Linked DNA regions of Homo sapiens. The protein of the gene in region 3 purifies or fractionates together with the protein of the main gene of each other region. This does not show direct contact. Each region holds a gene or a part of one and is shown on either strand. Other genes may lie near its edges.

Evidence for each region.
Region 1: the proteins of ZNG1B (region 3) and METAP1 purify together in Homo sapiens (affinity purification with mass spectrometry; 3 studies listed by BioGRID and IntAct, with this or other methods). This does not show direct contact.
Region 2: the proteins of ZNG1B (region 3) and HSPA12A purify together in Homo sapiens (affinity purification with mass spectrometry; 3 studies listed by BioGRID and IntAct, with this or other methods). This does not show direct contact.

Annotation. Positions count from the first base shown.
Region 1 is NC_000004.12:99,054,691-99,061,720, reverse strand, and holds part of METAP1 (methionine aminopeptidase 1), read right to left. Parts: intron 3,969-7,030; coding exon 3,903-3,968; intron 568-3,902; coding exon 404-567; 3' UTR 1-403. UniProt on the Homo sapiens protein: Cotranslationally removes the N-terminal methionine from nascent proteins. The N-terminal methionine is often cleaved when the second residue in the primary sequence is small and uncharged (Met-Ala-, Cys, Gly, Pro, Ser, Thr, or Val).
Region 2 is NC_000010.11:116,670,692-116,676,596, reverse strand, and holds the end of HSPA12A (heat shock 70 kDa protein 12A), read left to right. Parts: intron 1-94; coding exon 95-198; intron 199-1,178; coding exon 1,179-1,816; 3' UTR 1,817-5,405; downstream 5,406-5,905. UniProt on the Homo sapiens protein: Adapter protein for SORL1, but not SORT1. Delays SORL1 internalization and affects SORL1 subcellular localization.
Region 3 is NC_000002.12:113,433,017-113,440,718, forward strand, and holds the start of ZNG1B (zinc-regulated GTPase metalloprotein activator 1B), read left to right. Parts: upstream 1-4,674; 5' UTR 4,675-4,852; coding exon 4,853-5,006; intron 5,007-6,003; exon of another isoform or gene 6,004-6,055; coding exon of another isoform or gene 6,056-6,101; intron 6,102-7,702. UniProt on the Homo sapiens protein: Zinc chaperone that directly transfers zinc cofactor to target metalloproteins, thereby activating them.

The DNA.
Region 1 (7,030 bases), on a different chromosome or scaffold from region 3:
TCCATATATATAATTTAAAAAATCTGGTGCAACACATATTGCTAAGTTTCAAAGATTCTCATTTCCAATGTTCACCTGGAAAGCAGATGGCTCTTGATGGCTGTTTTGCGGCAGTGATAAAAGCAACTACAAGCAAGTTTAAGTAAAAGTGCTCAAAGGGCAAATGAGAAAACAGGTGTGCAGGGGGAGGGGGCTGAAGAGTTGAGCAATGTTTCCTTTATTCTTCTCAGCTTTTTCAGACCCAAGACAAGTTCTTGAGGACACACATCAAATGCTGTAGTCCTTTCTTATCTATAGTCAAAACAAAACAAGTGATTAAAAAAAGGTTCCTCTTCCTTTCTGTACTCTCAATAAAATGCATAGCACAGTAAGAAGGTACTGAGATGTGCCATCTTGGGAGAAATTAAAATTGAGACATGAAGTGAGGCCGTGCACTGTCAAGTCGCCGGGTTAGGATTTCACAGCCAGTGTCTGTGACCAGGAGGGTGTGCTCAAACTGAGCAGACCGCTTTCCGTCTCTTGTCACCGCAGTCCAACCATCTGGCCAGGTTTCATCCTGCCATCCGCCTTCAACAAACAAAAACAATTTCTTAGTTCACTCAGTTTTCTAAATGAACTCTATCAAGAAGAAAGCCAAGGAAAAAATTCACTACTAAGATCCTTATTTACATGCCAATTGTTTTAGCTAATGCCTTTCCAACTTCATTTTGGTCTTCAGTATGTTTGATGTTTAAATTTCATCAGATGTATTACAACCACATTTTTTATATATCCCAAATATCAAATCAAGATGGAATTTCCAAAATAAAGGCGCTGGATTTCATTTTAACAACATATTGATACCAATCACCACAACTTTGAGTAACAACCTTAATTAATTATATGTATCATTATATGTATCAAAGCATCACTATGTACCCTATGAATATGTACAATAATTGTCCATTTTAAAACAGGAAATTTTTTAAAAAGGACATTCTGCAATATGCTACAACACAGATGAACCTTGAGAACATAATGCTAAGTGAAATAAGCCAGTCATAAAAAAGCATATGCTTGGCCAGGCGCGGTGGCACACGCCTGTAATCCCAGCACTTTGGGAGGCCGAGGCGGGCAGATCACAAGGTCAGGAGATTGAGACCATCCTAGCTAACACAGTGAAACCCCATCTCTACTAAAAATACAAAAAATCACCCGGGCATGGTGTTGGGCGCCTGTAGTCCCAGCTACTCGGGAAGCTGAGTCAGAAGAATGGCATGAACCTGGGAGGCAGAGCTTGCAGTGAGCTGAGATCGCGCCACTGCATTCCAGCCTGGGCGACAGACCAAGACTCCGTCTCAAAAAAAAAAAAAAAAAAAAAGCATGTGCTTAATGATTCCACTTCTATGAGGTAGAGTACAGTAGTCAAAATCATGGAGATAGAAAGCAGAACAGTGGGTGCCAAGGTCTGGGAGTAGTGAGCAATAGGAAGGGAATGTTTAATGGGTTGAGTTTCAGTTTTACAAGATGAAAAGACTTTTGGAGATGGATGGTGGTAATGGGTGCACAACGTTATGAATGTATTTAATAATATTGAACTGTACATTTAAAAATGAGATGTGTATTTTACAATTAAAAAATCAGAAAAAAAACTTGAATGAATTTAGCTCTTTCCTAGTATAACTTGGGCATCTGACAAAACTATACTCAGCATATATTGTGAAGGAAATCATGTAAATGTTTACAGTTTTATTACAGCATTCAATTCCTGATATAATTTCAAAATGGTAGGCACACAAACAGATGGTGAGAACAGATTATACAGTGAAATTTTTGTGAACTATACCCCTGGAATCAGAAAGAGGGGCAAAAGAAAGACTGGTGTGAGAGCATAAGAAAAATATGAAGCAGAATGGTCTGGACAGGAGTTGAAACCAGAGAAGGGAAGCAAAGGGACAGTGAATCTGGGAGGCCATGAAAGAAAACTCAGAGAAAGGAGGGAAAGGGGGTGAAGGGGTCATAATGAGGGAAAGCAGAAAGCAAAGGCCCAAGAGAATGTGAAGCAGAGGTGGAATGAGAAAGGCAATTCTAGATACTACTGTAAAAGATGTATTTGCGAGCTTTCTTCTTTCAAAATTAGATGTTAAAAAAAAATCAATACTTTCTTCATTTTGAGTAATCTTTAGGTGAAACATATTACCTCTAGGACTCACTGCCTCAGACAGACAAATCCCAGAACATAAACTCTGTAGTGAAGTAAACTACTTTTGCAATATTAAATCCCAGGCTAAAAAGAAAATACGAGGCGGCCTAAAAAAGTTAACTCATGCCTCATCAAGCAACTAAAGATGAGTACATCGATGTTTTTCAATGTAATGGCCTTTACACAAATGGCCTTTACACAAATTTAAAACATTACTACTGTAATTTTATTGTGATCTGATAAAACAGGATTTTTAGTAATGTCAAGTCAAACTTATTTGGCTATTCTGAGGAAATTCTCCTGCAGATTTGAGACTTTCTAGTCCAGGGATTTAACCTAGCTGAGTTACACTTCAAGTATATCTGCTATAATTTGATGATTAATTACCTGTGCTGGCTGTATAGAAAGTTATTTGCTTACTGAAAACACTACATCATGGCTCACCAACCAGGTGCTAGTTAATGGAAATACGTAGCCAAAATGACAATTTCCTCCCACTATCTTTCTTTTCACTGCTAAATACTTACCATCTTTACAACTGGTTGCACGTGATCAGAACTTTATCCTTATTATAAGAGGATGACAAAAACTTTACTGCACATTTGTGCAGTCTTTTAAAGTATATAACATAACATAAATCATCTCAGTCTAGCAGCCCTGGGTGTTGGCAAGATAGAGATTCTAATTTTCATTTTACAGAAAACGCAATAAGGAACCAGCTTTAGAAGGCAGCCTCTAAAGTGACTTCAGTGATCCCCAGCCTCCTGGCATGCAGGCCCTTGTGTGAGCTCCTGCTCCCCTTGAGTGCGGGCTGGATTCAGTGAATCACTTCTAAGAAAGACAATATAGAAGTCACTCCCAAGACTGGGTTATAAAAAGACTGGAAGGATCAAGAGAGGGAGTATCCTTTAAAACAGGGCTCAGGACACACAAGCTCTACTGCTACTGCCTCACTTTGCATCCCCTAACCAGAAAGCTCCATTACCAGAATCACTCTGAAAATCTCGGTGAGGAGCCCTAATTGTGACTCCCAGTCTCCTATCACTGCTACAAGCCTGTCTGGAAGAGATGACAACAGTGGGGAGGCTGCCAGAGCCAAGTGTGCTTTCCAAGTGTCCTTGGTGTGCTTTCCCCACAATAGCTATATGATGCCACGTGATGACATGAGTACAGACCATGAAGGGTCAGAACAGCTCATGAGCTGAGTCTGACAAATTCTGCCAAGTAACAAGCTAAGTTACAGGCAAGCTACCCACCCTCTTCAAGGACCAGTTTCCTAGTTTCTATAATGGGGTAACACCTACCTTATAAATTGTGAAGAATTAAATCATATAATCATGTCTGCCTCGAACTGGGTGGCTCGTCAATGCTCTGCTCTGTTCCCTCCTCTTCCCTCTCCTACATCAAGCAAGAACGTCCGCACAGACTTGACCTGGGCACCTCATTATTACAATGCACCCTTTGACATGATCTTTATGAAAAGGGACCAGAATTCAAGCATTTCAGCATCTCCTGACAGAAGACTACCACGCAGAACCCATGCCGTTCTTGCCAACCCTCACAATTTTCAGTTCTTCACGATACTGAATCAAGTTTGAGGTGGGACAGGGAGTGAGTAGGAAGCAAAAAGCAAGCAGGTAGAAAAGACCACTGACATGATGAATTACCTAAAATACATATAAATTCAATTGAAAAATATCATGGCATCCTTTTTTCTCACCTTCACAAATCATTGGCTCAATTGTAAATACATGGCCCGACTTCATCACTCCAACTGCTTTATTTTCTGAAATCAAAGAAAAAAATCTCAAAAGGTAGCAAAACCAACAGTGTACTGTTGAACAGCTAACTAGAAAGAGTACATAACTCAAATTCCCATCAGTGATTGTTAAATTAATTACCCTGATTCCCTTTCTTAAAGTTCAACAAACAGGTATTATACTGGCAGCCATCTAATATGGTGCACGTATTGTCCTAGGCACATTTCAATTACGCTTATGTGTTCTCTAGGAAAACAGAGGTATTTGTAGGCTGTATTTCAGAGATGAGTATCACTTCTATAAAAAGAAAAGTGGCAAATAAAGAATAAAAGAAAAGTGCCTTGATTTCTATTACCTCATGATTAGAATTGCAATCACAGAACCAAGAGTTCCACTACTCATCCGGGTAGAGAAGCTCAAAGGAGAATGACAGATGTTTCAGATTATGCCAGAAATTTCCCACCGCTTTGGGGGGTAAGCATGTGTTTGCACACAGGTGCACAGCCCATAGAAACTACATGATTTTCATAATGTTTCATAAGCTGTTGTGTTTTTCTCATCTTCAAAGAAGAACAAAATCTATGCACATTAACCTACTTTTTAAAAAATAAGCTGGGTGCGGTGGCTCATGCCTATAATCCCAGCACTTTGGGAAGCCGAGGCAGGTGGATCACCTGAGGCAGGTCAGGAGTTTGAGACCAGCCTGGCCAACATGGCGGAACCTGTCTCTACTAAAAATACAAAAATTAGCCAGGTGTGGTGGCGTGCACCTGAAATCCTAGCTACTCAAGAGGCTGAAGCAGGGAATCACTGGAACCCAGAAGACAGAAGTTGAAGTGAGCTGAGATCAATTGCGCCACTGCACTCCAGCCTGGGCGATTGAGCAAGACTCTCTCAAAAATAAAAACAAGGCCGGGCGCAGTGGCTCACACCTGTAATCTCAGCACTTTGAGAGGCCGAGGTTGGTGGATCACGAGGTCAGGAGATCGAGACCATCCTGGCCAACATGGTGAAACCCTGTCTCTACTAAAAATACAAAAAATTAGCTGGGCGTGGTGGCGGGGGCCTGTAGTCCCAGCTACCGGGAGGCTGAGGCAGGAGAATGGCATGAACCCGGGAGGCTGAGCTTGCAGTGAGCCGAGATTGTGCCATGCACTCCAGCCTGGGCGACAGAGCAAGACTCCGTCTCAAAAACAAACAAACAAACAAGCAAACAAAAAAAACAAAAAACAAAACAAAAAACAAACAACTAAGGAGACCATTATTTTTTAATTCAAAGCAAAAAAGCAAACTCCATTTCTCTCTCCAAGTACTTTTTAGCTTCTTTGTCCAAGTTCACTAATGTAAGTTTTTTTCAGGATCATCATGAGCAATACAACAATAAATTACAGTGACCAGACCTGCCATACCCCTCAAAAATGCCAAAAATGTTAAAACTAGGAATAGGCTTTTTTAGACAAAAATGGAGAACTAATTTAAATTCCAAGTTAAACAAAACCTAATAAGGGTATCAGCTAAGTGAATGACTGCAATGCCCAACCTGACCACCAGATGGCTAATACATCAGCTTTTCAGGGTTCCTCTGCGAGGTTGTTCTGATCTGCAACTTTGTTATGAATGGCAAATTTGCCCGCCCTTTGAGGCTGACTCAACTAAACTCTCCTCTTTCCAGGAATGGTCTAACCTCCCCTACACGTTTATATTCCTGCATAACTTTCCAGATGAATAGCTATCGTGCTGCTTTCCACTATCTTAGGTATTGCCAAAATACACTTACTGCAGATTTCAAATCTGGAGCTTCTAAACTGTTATAAAATCCTAAGGTCATTTGAAAAAAGGAAGAAAAGAAAAACAAACATTTGACTTTTAATTTCTAAATTCATAAACTTTCAAAATGACATGCTTAATACATATACAGAATTGGTCTGTATTTCCTTGGAGAAACCAAAAAGAAAACGTCAAGAATGTCAGTGTGGTGTCACAGAAAGTAAAAAGGATGAAAGACTCTTGAACTCTGCCGTCCAGAACAGCAGCATTGGCCATGTATAGCTAGAAAGTACTTGAAAAGTGACCAATCAGAACTGAGGCTATCAGTGCAAAAGCCCTTTGGATTTCAAAGACTAAAACAACATGTAACATATCTCTCAATAATTTTTACACTGATTAAAGTTTCAGTTTCCCAACATACCTCACTCAACAAATACACATTATCTGAGTGACTATACTATCGCAGACACTCTTAGGTACTTTTTAAAAAATTTGTACCTGATCTATAGTCTCTCACAGAATGACTGTAATATGCAGGCATGCCTTGTTTTATTGCATTTCACTATATTATGCTTCACAGATACTGCTTCCTTCTTTCTTTTCTCTTTTTTTTTTTTTTTTGAGATGGACTCTTGCTCTGTTGTCCAGGCTGGAGTGCAGTGGCACGATCTCGGCTCACTGCAACCTCCACCTTCCAGGTTCAAGTGATCCTCCCACCTCAGGCTCCTGAGTAGCTGGGGACTACAGTTGCATGCACCATGGCCGGCTAATTTTTGTATTTTTAGTAGAAGCGTGGTTTCACCATTTTGGCCAGGCTGGTCTAGAACTCCTGACCTCAAATGATCCGCCTGCTTCAGCCTCCCAAGGTGCTGGAATTACAGGTATGAGCCACCACATCTGACCAGATGCTTTTTTTTTTAAAAATAAATTGAAGATTTGTGGCAACCCTGCTCTGAGCAAGTCTAACAATGTCATTTTTCCAACAGTGCATGTTCACTTCATGTCTCTGTGTCACAATTTGGTAATTTTCACAATCTTTCAAACATGTTCATTATTATCACACCAGTTATAGTGATCTGTGATCAATGGTCTTTGATGTTAAAATTTTAATTGTTTTGGAGCACCACAAACTGTGCCCATGTAAAGACGGCAAACAAATGTTTGTGTGTGTTCTGAAGGCTCCATCAGCCTGCCCCACTTCTCTCTCCCTCTCCTCAGGCCTCCCTATTCCCTGAAACACAATACTGAAATTAGGCCACTTAATAGCCCTAGAATGGCCTCTAAGTGTTTAACTGAAAGGAAGAGTCACATGTCTCTCACT
Region 2 (5,905 bases), on a different chromosome or scaffold from region 3:
ACAGATGTTCTGCCAGGGCAGGTGTCTATGCAGATAAGCCTGGGTATCGTGTAGACCCTCACTGCCTGCTCTTCTCCATGCTATGCTCCTGCAGTGTGGATTTTGTGAAGTGGTCCTCGCAGGGGATGCTGCGGATGAGTCCAGATGCCATGAACGCCCTTTTTAAGCCGACCATCGATAGCATCATTGAGCATCTCCGTAAGTATCAGCCAGGCTCGGCCACTCGGCGAGGCAGAGCTGAGAAAGGGGATGGGCTTTCCCAGCATCACCAGCTGGTGCCTGTGGAGTCAGGTTGGCCTGGATCTGGGAGCCACAGGCAAGGGCCCTGCAGGACTGGGCAGGGCTTGGGCATGTATGGGAGAGGTTACTGGGCATAGGCTCTGGATCCCTCTCCTCGTACTGCAAAGCTGCTGAGAGCTTGTCTCACCCAAGCTTTCCGTTTGGCCTCAAAAGTCAGAGAGCTGGTAATGACAAAGAGGAAGAATTAAATAAACAAACAAAACTTTAAAACAACAAAAAAGATCAGAGAGCTGGAAGCTCTGAGGCAATGTTACCTGAGAGTGGCAGGCCCTAGGAAATGCATATTCTTTGCTTTACTGGGACATGTTAGACATCCTCACCCTGCTAGGGGAGAAGGAACTGTTGTGTGAATCAAAGGAAGTTCTGCAAGCAAATGGAATCTGGCTATGTCATTTTCCTGCTACATTGGTGGCAGTACCCAGGGACACATAGCAAACTCACCAGGACCTCTTTCAGTATCCTGTCCCCCGCCTACCAAATCAGACTCTCTAGGAGTGGAATGGGATTTTTATGAAAATCAGAGAATTCTATTTATAACAACCTGCCTTGACTTACCCAACAGAACCACAGGTTTGGAGAGCTTTAGGAGTATTCATTTATGCAAACCAAATTCTACTTAAAATTATCACCATGTATCTGTTAAAATGCATTTCTACTTAGCAGCAGCTCTGGCTTTTATTCCGGAACATATTGGTGTGCAAACTCCCTTTCTTTAAAAGACCAGTTCTGCAAAGATTCTGTTCAAGGAGCTCAGAGTAAGCCTGCCCTCCCAGTGGCCCAAGTGGCTTTATCCGTTCCCCACAGATGCAGGCAGCCCAGTTCCCCCTTCCTTGCTGGCTTTTGGTGACAGGACATTCTCCCTGCCTCTTCCCTTCCAGGGGACCTGTTTCAGAAGCCCGAGGTGTCCACCGTCAAGTTCCTCTTTCTGGTGGGCGGCTTTGCCGAGGCGCCCCTGCTGCAGCAGGCGGTGCAGGCTGCTTTTGGGGACCAGTGCCGGATCATCATCCCCCAGGACGTGGGCCTCACCATCCTCAAGGGTGCCGTCCTCTTTGGCCTGGACCCCGCGGTCATCAAGGTGCGCCGGTCGCCGCTCACCTACGGGGTAGGCGTGCTGAACCGCTACGTGGAGGGCAAGCACCCGCCTGAGAAGCTGCTGGTGAAGGATGGCACTCGGTGGTGCACCGACGTCTTTGACAAGTTCATCTCTGCCGACCAGTCTGTGGCTCTGGGTGAGCTGGTCAAGCGTAGCTACACCCCGGCCAAGCCCTCCCAGCTGGTCATTGTCATCAACATCTACAGCTCTGAGCACGACAACGTCAGCTTCATCACTGATCCCGGGGTGAAGAAGTGTGGCACGCTCCGCCTGGATCTCACAGGGACCAGTGGCACTGCGGTGCCCGCCCGGAGGGAGATCCAGACCCTTATGCAGTTCGGGGACACCGAGATCAAAGCCACAGCCATTGATATAGCCACTTCGAAGAGTGTCAAAGTTGGGATCGACTTCTTAAATTACTAACCCTCCCGCCCCGCTGCCTGTCCCCTTGGACTCAACTTATCTGCATCTGCTGACCTCAACCTTGACTGTTCTTTCCCTAACCTTGACCCTCACCATTGCCCATGTGAATTTCAGCAGGGAAGATGAGAACAATCAGGGCTAGAAATAATTAGTGACTTTTGAGGGCACACTGGAGTCAGAAAAACAGAAATTAAGATTAAGGTTTAGGCATAGAAAATTAAAGGATCCTGGAGGAGCAGCTAGTTTTCATAGGTACAAAAGTGGTGAAATGGCCACGGAGAAGGGAATCAGTACATTTCTGCAGCAGTGGTTGCGCTGCTTTGAACAGATCTCCGTTATGTAGAATTTAGGATGCCCTATTGCTGTCTTTCTAGATTTAAAATGAGATCTTTGAACCAGGAGGAGATCTTCATCTGAGACTTGTCTTTCTAAATTTTTTGGATGGCCATCAATATAAAATGCCACCCATCTGCAGTTAATTTCTTTTCCTCATCATGTGATTAAAAGTGGTGATTCAGTGGGAACTGGGAATGTTTTTAGCTGGTGGTAGAAGGCTGCCTACACTGGGCACTGTTTTAGATTCTCATATCATTTAAACAGCAAGGAGGTTCAGGGAAGAATAACCGTAGCCTTGGGTAATCCACTAGGGCTTTTGTGAGTAGGAGAGCTGATACCTCACATTCTTAGCAGGTGAAAACTTGCCATGATGGAAACAGATAGTGAAGAGTTACTGACGTATCCCAAATTATATGCTGTGACATAAATTCCCAGCATGCCCAGCCCTGATTTCTGAGTTCATAAGTAATTCTAGTGAACCTTAGTAGGAATTCTGGGTAAGAAAATGAGGTTGCCATTGGTCTTGTTTGCATCACCAAGACCAGACATCCAGAAGAGCCCCTCACCTTGAAAAGCAGACAGATTTTAAATTAACCCCCTCCTTCCCACTCACCTTCATCTCCCTAAGAGTTTTGGCCATTTAATTCCACATTTTGAAAGGAATACATTGGTGAAATTTGGGAAGAGAATCTGTGCTATGCAATGTTTCATTAAAATCTTCAGTTTTTCAAGTCTCTCTAAAAATAATTTGTAGATCTATACTTGATGTATTAAGTCAGTTTTTTTTCACAGCGGGCCTGTGGCTCGCCTGCATCAGAATTGCCTGGGTGCGTGTTCAGAACAGGTTCCTGGATCTGAGCCCTTTTTAACTGAGGCCGACTCTTGGAGAGGGGCACCAGAATCTGCATTTGTAGTGTATACCACATCGTGGTTCAACTGAAATTGGAGAAATACTAACCTGAGATTTTGTTGAAGTTCACACACAGATCACAGCCCGCCCTCTGCAGGTGTCCCCTTTGGGCTCCTTTAGGAAGAGGGCTTCCATGAGAAGGTGACCCCATACCTTGCCCTCTTGGTCAATGGGATTGGGGCTCCACCTGGCTTGGAGATGGCCCTTTTAACCCTCACAGGAAGGGCCAGGGGAGGAAAAAAATTGCAAGAAAGCGACACCAAGAACGGAGCTGACTGAGGAACCAACTGGAGGGTCTTCACTCTCTCCTTCCCCAGTGTACAAAACCAGTTTTCTGCAACATTCAGGAGCCAAATGAGGAAAAAGAATCAAGAATCTGACTCACAGCCCATCTGATCTGTTCAAAGCTGTCTTTTCCACCTGCTGAAATTCATTAAATCACTGGAGGCATGCATAATGAATGGAGAATGAGTGAACTTCCAATGCAACTTGGATTCACAAACCCATTATCATAGCCAATATGCAGATTTTAAACAGCATTTCACATTTCATTTGACCATGTCTTCTTTTTCGCATCGCCTGCTGCAGAATTCCCTACTAGAATGTGAAACAACGAACAAACCACAGAACTTAGAGTGTGCTGGTTAGTCACATAACTTAGTAGCAGGATTGTGTATCCAGGCACAAAGGTGTCTTTGCTAATGTTCTCTTGCTACCTGCCCTGCTTCAAACGCTAAATGGTATGGGTCTTTCTTTGTTGCCAGCCATATTCTACAAATAAGACTTTTCAATATAGTTATGAGTAATATAATTTTATGTACATATAATGTTAGAATATTGTACAGAATCTTGGTTTCTACGATGCGCTTTTCTTGTTTCAAAAAGAGGAAAATGCTTGATTTTTGTTGATGATACTTTTGTTACTGTCCTTAATTTTCCATAGTTTGGTTTCTTAATTGTGCTCACTAAGCATCGATCTGTGCTGATGCCAAGCTATGGACTATGTACGCAAGACCGAGCAATAGACAGAGGTGCCTAGGGTCCAAACACACTGAACGCACGTGGACCGCCTGGATCAGGAGCCTCATCAGACCCTTCTCCATGCACATCCTTCCCAAACAGTCACAGATTCCATTGAAAGGAGCAGATTCTATCAGTTCTTCTGTGCAGACTTTAAGAGCTGAACGTTCTGGTTCTGGAAGCCATGTGACTGCGCAGAACAACCTAAGAAACCCTTTGTGTCCTGAGGGGTCGTTGACCTCTCCTTCCGGGTCGGAGCAGTCACTCTGAGGGCAAAGCGTGGTCCACTGTGTGTGATGTTTTCAGGATGCTAGGGTCAAAGAAAGAAACCAAGTGGTACATAAGCCCAGCTTTTCTGCTGGGCTAAGTGTAAGTGTGAGTAACATGGTCAAGCCCCTCTTTTTTGGGCTAATGTAAAGCCTTTCCTGCCTTGCATTAATGCTATCTCCCTGTGTACTGTTTCTCTTAAATGAGCAGATAGAAATCTGCAGTGTTGGCAGATAGGTGATGGAGAGGATGATAATTTTATCTTCTGGCCACAGAGCTGCAGCCCCAGTTGTCAGAGTCCTTAAATGAAACCCCCAAATCCATCCCTCCTTCCCTACCCCCACTGGAATATTCTAGAATAAGAGCACTGGATAAGTACACTTGAACACATTTTTCTAACCTTAGAAAATACCTACAAGGCCTGTTGTCTTGACCCATTACTCAATTGTCCCTGGCATATTATCTGATCTTCACGTTTCTTGGAAGCAGAATCATCAAGGCTTTCCTTTGTAACTGCCCTTTCCGTACACAGCAGGCATGAATAAATGCTGAGTAACAGACAAGTTACAGACAGGAGGGGAAAGAGGAGGAACCATACAACTGTTTTTGCAAAATGATGGCTGAGTCCAGATTATAGAGGTTGCCTTACCCTTAGAATGTTATTTAGACCAAGTTTAGCTTTTAGAGTCCAGGTCTGGTTAATTGCCAGGGTAGCAAAGAATCGCATGCACCAATGTAAACAGGAGTCAGAATGCATTATTAGTCAAAGATCGAATTTCACATTGTAGAGATGTATAGCTGTGATTAAGCTGCATATGTATGCTGGGAAACGGCTTGAGTGGATGGCTAATATAAAAGTTGTTGGCCATAATGCCACACCTCTCATCTGCTTGAAATATGGACCAGTATTCTAAAATATCAGCTACTGGGGTCTCATTCACTACAAGATAAATTCAAACTTCACAGAACTTTGCAGCAGTTCACCACCAGACGGGACTGTGTCTGCAAACTCTCTTGTCTTCACAGACGCCTAATAAAGCAAAACTCTGAATCTCATGTGGCCCAGATTTTTTTTCCCCCCATCCTGGGTTTGCAAACTGCATGATGGACACGTCAGTACTGATCTCCCTCTCTACCCCATCTCAGGTGGTGGAGAGAGAGTTTCAGTTTTTTCCAGGTGCTGTAAGTTTTCTTAAGTTATTCTAACAAGACTAGGCCCTTTGTTTGCTGGGAACCAAGGCCCCATCGATGGGCACAGAGCCCCTTTTCTCTGGAAGAAAGTGGTCTAGCCAGAGGGAGGGCAGGTAAGCAGAGTGACCACTGCCAATGCCACTGCACCCCAGTGTAAGTCATTAAAACATGCAGAAGGCCTGGCTGGGCTCTTGCCCCTGGGCATCCCAGCCGTCACGTGAAACTGGCTGTGTCCAGAGCCTACACCTGAGTCGCCCTCCACAGTTGGCTCTGAAAGCTTCCTGATGGCCCGAGGTATGTTCTAAATGGGGTGATAAAAGAGAGGTATAAATGGTGGTCGGCTCCACCAGCCTTCATTTGCAGTT
Region 3 (7,702 bases):
ATTTAACAATTCCTCCTTTTGGTCAACCTGTCAATTTTGAGAGGATGATTAATTTTGAGGTTGCCCAAAACTTTAGGCATTGACATCACTTTTTATCATCATAAATAGAGTTATTTGGTCTCTAATGCCATTGGAAAATAGCAGAACACTGGATTTTGTAAGGTGGGAACAAGGAAACAGTATAGAAAAAAAAAACTGATTGGTTAACATCAGATTACTTTTTTATTTTTTTGTCACCCAGGATGGAGTGCAGTGGCACAATCTTGGCTCACTGCAACCTCACCTTTCGGGTTCAAGCAATTCTTCTGCCTCAACCTCCCGAGTAGCTGGGACTACAGGCATGTGCCACCACACCCAGCTAATTTTTGTATTTTTAGTATAGATGGGGTTTTGCCACGTTGGCCAAGCTGATCTCAAGCTCCTGACCTCAGGTGATCCACCCGCCCTGGCTTTCCAAAGTGCTGGGATTACAGGCATGAGCCACTGTGTCTGGCTGAGATTGCTTTCTTGTAAGTAATCTGTTGTTACTTTGGGTTACTTTTCTGTAAAGGATAGAGCAGAGGGGACTTCCTTATTATACTGGAATCTTCTGTCTTCAGGAGAAGAAAAAAAAAAACTCATCTATTTTGGGACCTGTTTTTTAAAGTTTTAGTTTGATTTTGTGGTGCTTAGCATGAGTGACTCCATTTTGGTTTGGTCTGGTCTGCTTGGGATTAGTGCAGGAGCTCAGTCCAAAACAATGACCTCTCATAATTTTGTTTAATACATGAAATTCAAATTTCAAACTTGTAGACATTTGCTCTCTCTCTTATATTATATAAGTACCTACACAATGTCCTCAAATTTGCTTTTTGATCTGTAAAGACTAAGATATTTATCATCTAGTTTTACAGAAAAGTTTGCAGATCTTCTGGTTTAAAAGAGCAGGAGATTTAGTGTCAGGCAGGTTTGGATTGAGCCCAAGGGCTGCCATTTACTGATTGTATGACTTTGAGCAAGGTATTTATCTTTTCTAAGCCTCAATTTCCTCATCTATAAAATGGGCACACAAATAGTATTTACCTTGGAGAGTTAAATGGGATAATGCATTTAATGTGCTTAACACAGTTGCCTATCAGATGCTTAGGGGCTCAAAACATTACTATTGTTGTTGTTGTTGTTTTACCCTAAAGTAAATGAGACAAAATAGCAAAGCTAAATGAGGAGGAATTTTTAAGTTACATCAGAAACTGTAATAGATTCTAAAATATTATAATTAAGAAATTTCATACTTATTTAAAAAGGCATTTTCAATTTAACAATTTAACAATTTAACCCTCTTATAAGTTAAAAAAAAAAAAAAAAAAAGCCCGGCACAGTGGCTCACGCCTGTAATCCCAGCTCTTTAGGAGGCTGAGGTGGATGGATCAGGAGGTCAGGAGTTCAAGACCAGCCTGGCTAACGTGGTGAAACCTCGTCTCTACTAAAAATACAAAAATTAGCTGGGCGTGGTGGTGCATACCTGTAATCCCAGCTACTCAGGAGGCTGAGGCAGGAGAATCGCTTGAACCCGGAGGCAGAGGTTTCAGTGAGCCAAGATCGTGCCACTGCACTCCAGCCTCAGCAACAGATCAAGACTCCATCTCAAAAAGAAAAAAGAAATAAAAATAAAAAGTCATGACCAGCTATTTTGGGAGAACTGAAATTACAACTCTATCTGAGAAAATAAAATGACAGGACTCCACAGAATCCATAGATAAAAATTTAACTGAAGAGGAATATGGAACAGACTAAAGGAAAAATTTTATCAAGCTGTAATCTTTATACTTGTGCCTGAGGCCAGAACTTGAAACTGCTGAAGACAGTGTTTCTCTACAAATGTACACAGGCACCCCATTTTGATGCACAGATAGGTGTTTATTTCTTTTAAGAATAGCAGCTTTATTGAGATAAATTTCACATATGATACAATTCACCAATTTAAAGTGTACAAGTCAATGGTTTTCAGTATAATCAGAGTTGTACTACCATCACCATAATCAATTTTAGAACATTTTCATCACCGCCCAAAAACCACTGTAGTCTCTCCCCAGCCCTCCACTCCTGGGAACCATTAATGTACTTTCTGTTTCTATAGATTTGCCTATTTTGGATATTTTATGTAAATGGGATCATACAACGTGTGGTCTTTTGTGAATAGCTTTTTTCACTTACCATAATGTTTTCAAGATTGGTTCATGTTGTAGCAGGTATCAGTCCTTTTTCCTGTTTATTGCCAAATAATTTTCCATTGTACGGATAGATCATATTTTGTTTATCCATTTGTCACATTTTGGTTGTCTATCAGTTGATAGATATTTGTGGTGCATTTAATTTTTGGCCAATGTGTAAAACTTATTTTGCTCTCACTGAGGCTACATACTGTTACAACAATGCTATTTGGTCAACTTGACTGAGCTGGCCTCATAAGTTACAGGTTGCTCATTGTTAGAGATGAGACTTTAGACCAGACTGGACAACATAGTGAGACCCTGTCTCTACCAAAAAGAAAAAGAAAAATTAGCCAGATATAATGGCATATGACTGGAGTCCCAGCTACTTGGGAGGCTGAGATGGGAGGATCACCTGAGCCCAGGAGTTTAGGACTGCAGTGAGCTGTGATCGTGCCAATGCAATCCATGCTGGGCGACAGAGTGAGACCCTGTCTCAAAACACAGAAAGAGGGATTTTAGTATAACATTCAGCCAGTGCCATATTGGGAACCCACAAGAATGTACTTTAAAAAATATGTCAAAGAACGTGGTGAGGGCTGTAATAGCTGCTATTCAGGCAGTAATGCAGTGCTGAAGGGACATCAAGCAAATAGTGTGATGCCTGTGGGTGCAATGTTACTCCTTCCCTTAGGTTGCCAAAAAAATCAATACTTCATAGCATTCCTGAAACGAAAAAGCTTATGAACCATTGTGTTTAGGGCGTAAGCTATCTATTTTGGGCTACCCATCACAGCTTCTCTCCTTTGGTAGAATAAAGTGAACTGAACCACCATGCCTAAGGTATTTGCCTTATTTCTTCCTCAGCTGGTTCATGGTTACATTGTCAAAGCTGGCAAAGCATTCAAGACCTGATTTCTCAGACCGAGTGTATGTGTGAATATAATATACTCATTTGCACAAATATAAACCCTCTGTCTTAACTGTGTTCTGCAAAAGGCGTGATAAATACTTTCAAGTTATATGTCCTTATCAGTAGAACTAATGGAATACACACAGTATATTATATGGGGAATTTCAGAGAAGGAAGGAAAAGTCAACCTTTTATTTGGCATCAGGATAGTAGTAAAACATTCTACTTGTGCATCAGATAGATTTTTATGACCTAACCTGGACAAGTAACTTAACTCTTGGTGCCTCATGTTTGAAAGAGGGATAACACTCTACAGGGTCATTCTAAGAATTAAATATTGCCAAAACACATGAAAAGATTCTCAACCTTGTTAGTAATCAAGGAAATGCAAATGAAGATCACAATGAAGTCTTCTTTTGTACTCAATTGATTGGTGAAAAATGCATGCCTGATAATATTGACATAACAGACCAATGAGATCTCTTATAATTTGCTGGGAAAATGTATCAATTTGTACAAACATTTTGAAAAATAATTGTGCATTTTCTTGTGAAGTAAAACATTTGAATAATCTAGGACCCAGCAATTCAGCTCTTACACAGACACTCAAGAGGAAGTTGCACACACATATGTCAGGAAAAATGTTCATAGCAGCCCTGTTCATAAGAGCAAAACCTGGAACAATTGAGAGGAAATGAATAAATTGCCGTGTAGCCACACAATAGAATACAAGACAGCAGTGATGCTGAAAAATATAGCAAGCCTCAGGAGTTTATATATTATATGGATAATTTTATGAAGCTCAAAAACACCCAAAATTAAACAACATATTCTGTAAGTACATACGTGGGATATGTGATAAAACTAAAAGGGAATGATCAGCAATCCAGAACCAATTCATGACTGTTGTTACTATCTTATGGGGCAGGCTGTGGATTGGAAGCAGGGGCGGTGCACATAGGTACGTGTAACTTACTGGTAATGCTTTTAGGTTAGGAATGAGGTCAAAGGAGTTCACTATAAATTTATATTAGAAAGAAGGGCTATCTATGGATTAGTGATGAGAGTGTCATGCACCAGCAAATACGATTAATGAACTTAGGTTACCTGAGGTCCAAATAAATAATGAGAAAAAAGTAAATAAAAGTGATGCATGAATACTAAAAATTTGGAATTACATATATAATATGTAATAATAAAAAAAGAAAAAATTGTCACTGGTTATCCTTCAGGTATAAAAATTACAATTAAAATTGTAATGTTATAACCTTCCATTCTTTCCCCTATGAATTAAAACTTTTTCTTTTAACGAGACTAAAAAATCAAGTTGATAAAATCTATGCCCTGTGGGAACTGGTTAGGTCAGGCTACCCACTCCAGATTTCCAGCAGGCTGGCCTCAGCTCTACCTACAGCCAGTAGCTTATTAAGGCTCTAGGCGCCAGTGACACCTTCAGACAGGTGGTTAGTGCGCCCTAAGGACTCTCCGCAGCGTCGCTCAGGTTCACAGAACACGCCCAGGGGCGTGTCCAGCTGTCGTCGGGGAGAGCCCACCTCCCCGGGGGGTGTGGCTAAGGGACGAGGCGCTTCTCGTCCAGAGCCCAGGTAATCCGGGCGGGATCAGCGAGCGTCGCGATGTGATGACGTCAGGCCCCGGGCAGGCCGGGAGTGGCGTGCTGGGCGTGCGCGGCTGCGGTACGGCGTGTTGGTCCCAGCGGTTCAGCTGAGGTAGGGACGTGCTGTAGGCCGGAATGTTACCGGCTGTTGGATCTGCGGATGAGGAGGAGGATCCTGCGGAGGAGGATTGTCCTGAATTGGTTCCCATGGAGACGACGCAAAGCGAGGAGGAGGAAAAGTCTGGCCTCGGCGCCAAGATCCCAGTCACAATTATCACCGGGTATTTAGGTAACTAACCATCCCAGTCACAAAATGGCGTGACCTCTGGTGTCATGGGATTTTGCGGGCTGCCGGTGCCTCTTCTCCTGAGGCATTGGGGCCTCATGATCAAGAGCAAATGTCTTCGAGGTAGGGGCTGGGTCACTTGCTTCTCGTATGGGTTGCCTCTCATCTTGGGAGTTAATGATGCCCGGCCCCCTCTGCGTTAGATTCCCATTTCTCAAGTGAGATGGAAAGTTAGCCTTTGAAACAAGGCTTTGACGCTAAGACACGCCCCCCTGATTGTCTCTGTGACCTCCTACCAAGTTATCTTACCTTCCTGACGCTCATCTACCTCACCTGAAAATGGAGAAATACCTGTCACCTGTGAAACAGGGCCGGAACCACCTACCTGTTGCCATTAAAGGATGTCCCGTCTGTAAAATGCCCGACACGTGGGGCTTTCGTCAGTAGATTCCCCTTCCCCACGAGCCAAAGTCCTCCAGCCAGTTGGCAGGGAGCGCTCCTATCTTAAACACTTTTTTTTTGAGGTCTGTTTGTAAACCACTGCGTAGGAAGTAAGAATAAAATCTCTGTCCTCCAAGACTATTTCTCAAACTAAGAACGTTTAGAGTGTACAGGGATACTCGAAACCACAAGTTTGTGAACTTGGTAGTTTCGTGAAGGGCGGTTTATGCACTTACACTAGAAGTTTCTTACTGGAAAAGTTTGAGAAATATATTTTTAAACCTTACAGTTAAATAGAAGGGCTAGAACAAATATATGACTGTATTAGAAGTTTGGAAAAAGTTAAGAAATGTAAATAAAATGATACTGTTTCCGGGAAATAATATTCCTAGTTGTTGCTAGAGACAGGTACAGACTTGGGCCACTTCGTGACCTTTTATGTAAAAATAAGAAATAACTGCTTTTGTTTTTTAAAAAACTTTGTAGACTGTAAGTTTATTCCCGTTTTTTGCTCGGAAGTAATTTTATAAAGGAATTTATTTTTGGCGTTTCCCCACAGTTATTCAGAGGCTGCTCTGCTGAGAAGATGAACAAATTTCTTGTCCAAAACAATGTATTTCAAACGTGCCGCTCGGGCCTTTCCCGTATTGCTCACTGGTAGGTCAGTAGATCACTGGAGAAAATGATCTGAAGCTCAGGAGTGAGAATTAATACCAGCAACCTTGTTGCTGAATCTAGGGATAGTTTCACTCCTATCCCTGACCATTTTCCCTTTCTGAAACACTGTTCTTTTGGCTTCTATTACATTTTTCTTCTGATTTTTCCACCTGCTTCTCTGGCTTCTTTTTAAGGCTCCCTCCTCCTTCCCCCTTTGTCCATCTTTAGCTACACACCTGTGTAATTTCTATTTTGATGTCCTACAACTTAAAACTTAACATGTCTGAAACTTCGTCTGTTACCATCCCCCCAAATCCTGCTTCTGTGATCCCAACCATTTGTAATACTCTAAAAGCCTCCTGACTAATCTGGAGTCTTGCTGCCCTTTAATTTATTCGTTGCATGTTAGCCTTAATGATCTTTATAAATGTCAATCCGACTGCGTCACACCTTTCAGTGGCATCCCTATGGGTTAAAATCCAAATTCCTTAACATGAATTACAAGGACCTGTAGCATCTGGATCTTGCCAACCTTTCCAGCCTGCCAAATTGGCCCCGCACAATGAACTAATGTTACTTCAAAGGTGCCAAGTGTTTTAGCCCCTTGGAATAGGTACTTTTTTACTGTGACTCCTCTGGCTAGATGTCCCTCTTAGGTTCTCCATAGCATTTTGTGCATCTCCTATTGAATATGTCACCCTGTGACATAATTGCCTCCTTATTCACTGAATTCCCCTCCATTCCCCCCTTCCCTTAATTTTTTTTTTTTTTTTTTTTTTTTTTTTGAGACGGAGTCTCGCTCTGTCGCCCAGGCTGGAGTGCAGTGGCGGGATCTCGGCTCACTGCAAGCTCCGCCTGCCGGGTTCACGCCATTCTCCTGCCTCAGCCTCCCAAGTAGCTGGGACTACAGGCGCCCGCCACTACGCCCGGCTAATTTTTTGTATTTTTAGTAGAGACGGGGTTTCACCGTTTTAGCCGGGATGGTCTCGATCTCCTGACCTCGTGATCCGCCCGCCTCGGCCTCCCAAAGTGCTGGGATTACAGGCGTGAGCCACCGCGCCCGGCCCCCTTAATATTTCTAAGCTCTATGAAGGCAGAGACTATCTTGTTCACTTTTTCACCAAGGCTCAGCATAAATCTGTAACGTATTAGAAACCTTCGAATGAATGAGCTATGTCTTAAAGTGTTTTTTTTTTCATAATATGGTTAAAAAGCCCTAGTAAATCTTCTCTTAGAAGATTTCTTACATTCACCCTTTCCTTTCAGTTTTCACATCACTGCCCTGTGAAACACTCATGTTCAGGGCCTCTGTCTCAGGCTTGGACTGGTTTTAAGATTTTCCTCATTGCCCTAAGTCTCTCCCATTCTATACTTCATATTTTTGTGATGTTGAGCTTCCTAAAGTACTCTAAATATAAGCCTTCATCTCTTAAAAAGCTTTGAAAGGAATATGACCTAAAAGATATTAATACCCTAATACTCTGTAAAATCTTCCTAGTTATATACTAGAAAACTTAATGTATTTCAGAAGACATGTATAGCCTACATGTAAAAGTTTTTAGCAGCACTGTAATAGTAAAACACTGGAAACAAACCAAATG